Homo sapiens: one gene and its partner. The protein of the gene in region 1 interacts with the protein of each later gene in a pairwise test. Each region holds a gene or a part of one and is shown on either strand. Other genes may lie near its edges.

Evidence for each region.
Region 2: the proteins of BACH2 (region 1) and SMYD1 interact in binary tests that used the Homo sapiens proteins (3 or more experiments, as listed by UniProt).

What each region holds. Positions count from the first base shown.
Region 1 is NC_000006.12:89,926,050-89,930,002, forward strand, and holds the end of BACH2 (transcription regulator protein BACH2), read right to left. Parts: 3' UTR 479-3,953; downstream 1-478. UniProt on the Homo sapiens protein: Transcriptional regulator that acts as a repressor or activator. Binds to Maf recognition elements (MARE). Plays an important role in coordinating transcription activation and repression by MAFK.
Region 2 is NC_000002.12:88,084,825-88,088,424, reverse strand, and holds part of SMYD1 (histone-lysine N-methyltransferase SMYD1), read right to left. Parts: intron 564-3,600; coding exon 350-563; intron 1-349. UniProt on the Homo sapiens protein: Methylates histone H3 at 'Lys-4' (H3K4me), seems able to perform both mono-, di-, and trimethylation. Acts as a transcriptional repressor. Essential for cardiomyocyte differentiation and cardiac morphogenesis.

The DNA.
Region 1 (3,953 bases):
CCCCCTTCACTAACCAATGCATGACTGTATGGATTCCTCAACCACAATTCTAAACATCTTTCCTTGCAACTCACTGCATCTTGGTGTTGGCTTAATGTTCTTTCTCATTTACTTTCATTTAGTTTTTAAAAAATTCAGCCTATTTTGGATATAATTGCAGATTCACATGCAGTTGCAAGAAATGATACCCATCACCCAGTTTTCTCCCGTGGTAACATTCTGCATAGCGATAGCACAATATCAAAACCGAGAAATTGGGTTTAAAGCCTTTTATCTACTCTCACAGGCACTAGGGATTTTTAAAATTCAGAGTTTAGGAATCACATTAATATTATCCAATTTTAAAGATTCCTAATCAGATTAATCAGGTAGCAAGTAAGGGTCCAAACTAGAGGAAGAGAAATGGCCTCTAGGAAAAAAGATTTCCTGAGGTTTCTCACTCTGTAATTTGGAACATAGGGATCAGAGGCAGAGAAAATCAGTTTACAATGCATAATGATATGTCTTTATTTCATCAACAGAAATGGTGTCTAGACAAAATTCAGTTAACACTAGCAATTCAATTGAGTGAAAACTTTTTTTGCACAATAGTGTATTTACAATGAGTAAATGAAGTTTCAATTCATTAGTTCATAGCAATGCTTTTTTCCCCCAAAAGGTAAAAATTCTTAGTTACAGAGAATAAGCATCAACAGCCTTTCATTTTTTACAATAAAAACCACGAGAAAAACCACAATCACTTAGAAAAAAATAAGGACAAGCCTAAGAACTAGTACAATAAAATGATGCATTGAATTAAATTACATTAATCGCATAGAATCTGTGTAAAAAGTATGTAGAAAAACACCTGATGTAACCTGTTACAGTCGTTGACCAGTTATGAGAGGTACAGAGGGTTATACAGGTAGATATGTGTGAAAACTGTCCGTATTGTTCAACCTGGGGAGGAAGAGAAGAGGGGCTGCAGCCCCTTGCATACACTGAGAAGACCCTGTTTTGAATATGGCCTCTGGAGTTTGTAAGGCATATATTAGAGGTGCACTTGCATCAGACTGGTTCTGGAACAAATTGTCAAATTGTCACAGGCTCTCTTGGCCTCACTAGCAAAGGTGGTGCTTGCCTTGAATGGCTCACTGTGTCTAACAAGCACCTGAAGCTCCCAAATGCATATGGAATCTTCCTGATCACTCACTAGAGGTGCCATGTCTTTATGTCAGAGCGTGAAACGGGCATCCCAGGATTTGCACACACAAAATACATTGTTAGGACTTAAGGGGAGGTCATAGTTCTGCCTCCAAACATGTTTTGGTAGAAGACTGAGCATCCATCTGTAGGAAAACCCCTCTTTGTCCAAGTCCCTTCACTCTTTCGCAACATATGCGTCTGATTATTCCCATGGGAGCACTTGGCACTGAATGTGAGTCTACCTGAAATGAATGGTCTTGGTGCACACTTCTGCTTCTAAGAAGGGCCAGTGTTTTATCTGAGGTCAATAAACTGGAATGAGAATGAAAGTCAGAGCTGTTTATCCATTGCTTGACAGCAAAATGCATACACCGTGTCACAACATTAAATCAAAGCTATGAAAGTTGGCCTCTGCAACCAAGTGGGTATTCTTCACAAAATGGCAGCATCGTTTTCATATTACATTTAAAATGCACTGATATTCATTTGATAGAAATATCATCTCCCAGGGTGGAGTGTAGGAAAATACTATAAACTTTTCTTTGCAAGTAATGTTTTTGCACCGTCAGTTGAATAATTTATGCTCAATCTGCCACAATGAGACTTTTCTATGTACAAATGCTATTTGCACACACTATTTGTGTACAGATATGTTCTGTTCTACAGCATCGGTTTTGGACGCTGGGGTCATGAGATGGCTCAGGCAGTACTATAAACATACACTTTCAACACACAATGCCTCGTGCACACAGATTTCCTGTATGAATACCAACTCCACACAGGGCATTGTATTGTGGACTGACTCACCAGAAATTGCACTTCCAACACAGTCTTCAGTTTGGGGAAGAAACACTAACTCATGATACAACGAACAGCTTTATTCTTAGAAAACAAAAACAAAAACAAAAAACACCTTGTTCTTTAGTCTATTTACAGTCATTTGAGGACCAAACTTGATTCTTGCTCCTTCTGGATCTGAGACTCCTCCTAAACTGTAAGCAATAGTGAAGCAGTTTGAAGTCATTTCTAAGACAGCTCCTAGTTTAAATGGGGCATAATGTAGAGAAGTAGGTAGCCAAATAGGGACTTGAGAAAGCTTTGCAGGCAGCTCTTCCTCATTTTGAGAGGATTATGCTACTCCACAGGATGTCAAGCAGCTTCACGGGACAGGAGTTTTTGGTGTCTTAACAGGCTTATCATTTTCAAACCTTTGTCTGTTCCTTCTTTTTCTTCTTCTTTGATGGCAATCATAAAATATTAAAAGAGAAAATGTGGGTTTAGGCCTCTTGACAACAGCATTAAACTTCACACTGTGCACACTTCACTTTAGCCAGTCCTCTCATGAGTCTTGTCGCTGGTCCTGGCTCCTTTTGAAGGAGTAGTGGCAGTTGGCATACTAATCACTAGACTTTTGTTCCCTTCCTTGGAAAAGCAATGTAAGGATTACATCCCGAATTATAGTGCATCTTAAAAGCAGCAAACCTTTAGAAAGACAGTTAATAAATTACTCGCACAACATTCAGTTGCAGACACACAGAGTCAGGTTTTCCACTGCAGCATCATCTCTGATGCCTGAGTCATTGCTGGGAACTCAGAAGATAAATAGCAGGATGGCCTCGTAACTTTGTCGGTTTTTTTTTTTTTAAAGTTTTTCTAACTGTTTTGTTCCAGAATCAGTATGTAATAAAGTTCGATTTTAATCAAGGCACCCCCAGGTAACGCAGAGAAACAAACACATACAGCAAATCACTCACCTGTCCAAAGCCTGACCAACTTGAAAAGAGGTTGCCTGGATACACAAGCAGGACAAAGGCAGATCCAAGGGGAGGACTGGATTTAGGTGGGATGTTCATTAGTCTCAGGGTCACTCACCTCCACTGGCTCTGCCCCAACAACCATTCCTACCCCAGCCATTTGGAGACCCAAGCAGGCATCCTCCTAAACAGCCCGTGGTTGGAGGGTCTCTTATTTTTGTAAGAAAAGAGCCTTAAGAACAACCAAATGTTACTGTACTGTGCAAACACTCTTCCTTGCTGTTCACTCACTTTTCTTTTTCCTAAAAGGCGTGGGGTTGACAGAGGGATCCCAGGGAAAAGAGACAGGCTAGGTTTTAAAATTCCACTTGAGGCCGTTTGGATTCTGGTCCCCAGCAAGTCCTCCCTTTGAATCAACCCAGAAATAATTTTGACAAGCACATAGTTCTGAATAGGAAAAGACACACACACATCACATGAACAACTGCACGAAGCTAGTCACTGTTCATGGTGGATTATGAATGAAATAACTTGTGAGAAATCTCTATGAAATTGGAAGATGGTTTTTAGAGCAGTGTTTTTAACCAGTTCCCATGGCAGAAGTTAGGTTGGGGGAAGAGGAAGAAAAGCAAGGCAGGGGTGGGTGGGAGGAAGGTGAGGTCTGAGTTAGGGTGGAGAGAAATAAAGAGGCCCCGCCCCTGCTAGAAATGGCTGCCAAACAGGTCTGGGCTACTGAACCACAGAAACCTGAGGAAATGGATGGAATGTGGTCAAGACTACCAGTTGCACATGAGTTGTTACCAGGGTAAACCTCATGCCAAGAAGCTGGGTTGGACCTGGTTATGATATGAGCAGAAAGTGTTCTTTTTTTAAAAGAAGAGGAGAGGTCACTTGGAAAGGCAACAATAGAGTTAAAAAGCAAAATACTGTCAGCTGACTCCACTGTAACACACGCCTGCGAAGTATCACGTGATTCACATTGAGTTTATATTCTCACTGTCACCAGTTTTCCAC
Region 2 (3,600 bases), on another chromosome or scaffold:
TCTTAGTTGGACGATCCCAGCTGTCACCATGGCCCCTCCTTGATAAGGAATCATACTCTAGAATCTCCGGATTTTATTAGTTGGGTCATTTGGAGGCCTGTCCCTGGGCTCAGAAATGGAAGGGGCAGTAGATGTTTCTGCTACATGCGGTAAATAGAAGGCGGTTTCTCCAGCGCCTCTGGCTGCCTGGGCTAGATGAGACCTTTATGGAAATAGAAATCAGGGTCCAGGGCAGACAGGGCTTCTGCCTCTTAGTTCACTTCTGAGAAGCCCCACCCTCCCCAAGTGGGAGGAGGGAAGGAAAGAGGAGACAGACAGGGAGGATGGAGAAGGGACGCAGGGGGCCTACCACTCCGAAGATGTGCGAGATGTACTGCATGCTGAACTGCTGGCTCTGCGGCGGCCAGTACTGCAAGAATGTGTCCACGTCCACCCGCAGGTCCTTCTGCTCCTCCTCCCCAAAGTGCTCCACGTGGTTCTGCAAGTCGTCCACGGACACCAGGCAGCCCTCCGTGAGCCCGGTGCCTTCTCTCTCCACCCGCCACATGATGCGCGCCGCCAGCCTGTGGGAAGGGCAGCGTCAGGAGGCCACTACAGCTGCATTCATTCCTTCAACACACATTTACTGGGTGTCTCATGCATGCCAGGCACAATGTTGGGCCCAAGATACGTTTTTAAACTAGATGGATGGAATTTATTCTATCATGATGCTTCATATAGTGGGGGAGAGGTAAGTAAACAAGCACATTTTACATAGAAAGTGCTATGCAGAAAAAATAATACAGGGTGGCATGATAGAGAGTGACTGGGGTGGGGAAGCTAAGGTCTTCCAGGGAAGTGTCACAGAGGAGGCACATTTGAGCTGGAATTGGAAGGGGTGGAGGAGCTGGCTCTGTGATACTGGAGAAAGAGCACTTCAGGAGAGGGCAGTGAGTACAAAGGCCCTGAAGAAGGAATGAGCTTGGCATGATGGAGAAGTAGCAGGAAGGCAGAGGTGGCTGGAGCACAGGGAGCAAGAAATGGAGACCAAATAAAGGTGGAGGTGTGGGCAGGAGCCAGGTTCCGTGGGGTCTGGGGAAACAGAGAGGTGCGGCAGCCTGGGTCTCTCAACAGTGTGGCCTACTGGGATGAGCCCTGCATCAGGAGTCTAATGACCTGTTTCCACTTCTTACTGTGTGAGCCTGGGCAAGTCACTTGACCTCTCTGAATCTATCTGGTGGCTTGTAAAATAGGGAAAATAGTCCCTGCTATGCTAACCTCCAGAGGTATTCAGAAGACAAAGTGAAGTAATAGGTGTCTGCATTGTGTGTGAAAGTATTGGTATTCTTTTTTTTTTTTTTTTTTTGGAAGCTATACAGTGTACTCTTTATTTATTTTTATTTTTTTGCAAAGTAAAACTCCACAAGCAAGCATTTTGGGGACTGTGGTGGGGTGGGGGGAGGGGGGAGGGATAGCATTGGGAGATGTACCTAATGCTAGATGACGAGTTAGTGGGTGCAGCGCACCAGCATGGCACATGTATACATATGTAACTAACCTGCACAATGTGCACATGTACCCTAAAACTTAAAGTATAATAAAAAAAAAAAAAGATAGGGATGGGTAGAGATAAGGATAGGGGTAATCTCCTAAAATAAATTTCATTTCTGAAATCGGTACTAATAGAAAGTTGATTGAAAACATAACATGATTTGTTTTATTCCACTTTATTTTTGGCAATCATAAGTATTGGTATTCTTAATGATTGGGGAGTGAGAAAGTGGAGAAGGCAATCTAGGCCGGGAAACAGTGTGAGCGGAGGCCTCGAGGCAGCCACGGGCATGCCACGTGCAGGAAGCAGGGAGGGGCCTGGCCTGGCCGGAGCGGGGCTCTGGGGGAAGAGGAGGAGGCCAGGTGGGACAGGAGGAGACCTATAGAGACACAGGGACTTGAGTATGAGACAAAGGGGTATACTTCACCCCGAAGCCCTCTTTGTTAACTATTAGGTGGCCTGTGATGAAGCTTATGACCCAGGGACACTTTAATGTTCCTGCCACCCACTGACTGCACACTTTTCAGGCATCTGGGAGGGGATGGTGGTCCAGGACAGATCCTGTCCCTGAGGAGAGATCTGCTGGGCAAAGCACAGGCCCTCTCCTCATTTTTTTTAATTGAAATTTTAATTGAGATAATTGCAGATTCACAGGCAGTTGGAAAACAATACAAAGAGATCCCTTGTACATTTTGCCCAGTTTTCTCCAATGGTAACATTTTAGAGAACTAATATCACAGCCAGAATATTAACCCACCTGTATCATTCAGATTTCTTCCGTTTTACTTACACTCATGAATGTGTATGTGTGTTTAATTATATACAATGCTATCACCTATGTAGCTTCATGTATCCACCTACACAGTCAAGACACTAAACAGTGCCATCACCTCAGGGTCCCTTCTGTCCCCCCACCTCTTTTTGAACCATTTTAACCATTTTTAAGCATACAGTTTGGTGGCATTAAGCACACTCACACTGCTGTGCAACCATCACCAACCATCTGTTTCCAGAACGTTTTTCATCTTCCCGATTTCTCCTGTTTGAGTCACTGAGTTATTTCTGGAGAAATGCCCCGCATGGGACTCCAGGTGCCTGGAAACTGAGGTGTCTTCACAGGGAGCCCAGGGCAGCACTGGGGAAAATACGACTCAGCACAGGGAAGATCTGCTGCCTCCAAATACCGAGGAAAGGGTCATGAAGCTCAGAGAATAGAGGTCAATGGGTGGTAGATTTCAACTCAGTCACTATCATAGGAGGTGCCATTTACTTCAGGTCTTGAAGGATATGTAGTGTTTCAATAGATGGAGCTAAGGGGCATGGAGAGGTTGACTGAGCCATTTCATCCTGCAGGTTCCTAAAAATCATCAGGATATGACAATTCCATTCTGTGCCTTAACTTCACACACTATGCACACAGTGAAAATGCTCCCAGTCACCATCTCCATCTCCTTTGCTCTGCAGTGCTGGCTTCCTGAGCATCTCCCTGCAGCCCAGCACTGAGCCCCACCCCAGCGGAACCTCCAGGATTGGGAATCTCTTGGGCTGGAGCTATAGGCCTTGAGATTCTGATGATGGCCACCAGGAAAGGCCATTAGTTGCAAACTCAAATGCACTCTCTGGTGTAATGTGTATGACCACAGGGAGCAGTGGTGCTGCTGTGACTTAGAACGCTCTGTATTTTTTCAAAGGTGGCAGATACTACTCAGCTCTAGCCTATTTTGCCAGATTTTCAGTTTTTTGTTTATTTTTTTTTTCAAGAGAAGTCAGAAATCCTAATTTTAAAATGTGAAATTTCCCAATTTTTAAACATTGGTGGATCAATTTAAAAATACTTGCCCCTTGTCCGGGCATGGTGGCTCACAGTTGTAATCCCAGCACTTTGGGAGGCCGAGACGGGTGGATCGCTTGAGCTCAGGAGTTCGAGGCTACCCTGGGCAACATGATAAAACCCCATCTCTAAAAAAATACAAAAATTAGCCAGATGTGGAGGTGTGTGCCTGTGGTCTCAGCTAGTTGAGAGGCTGAAGTGGGAGGATCACTTGAGCCTGGGAGGTCAAGGCTGCAGT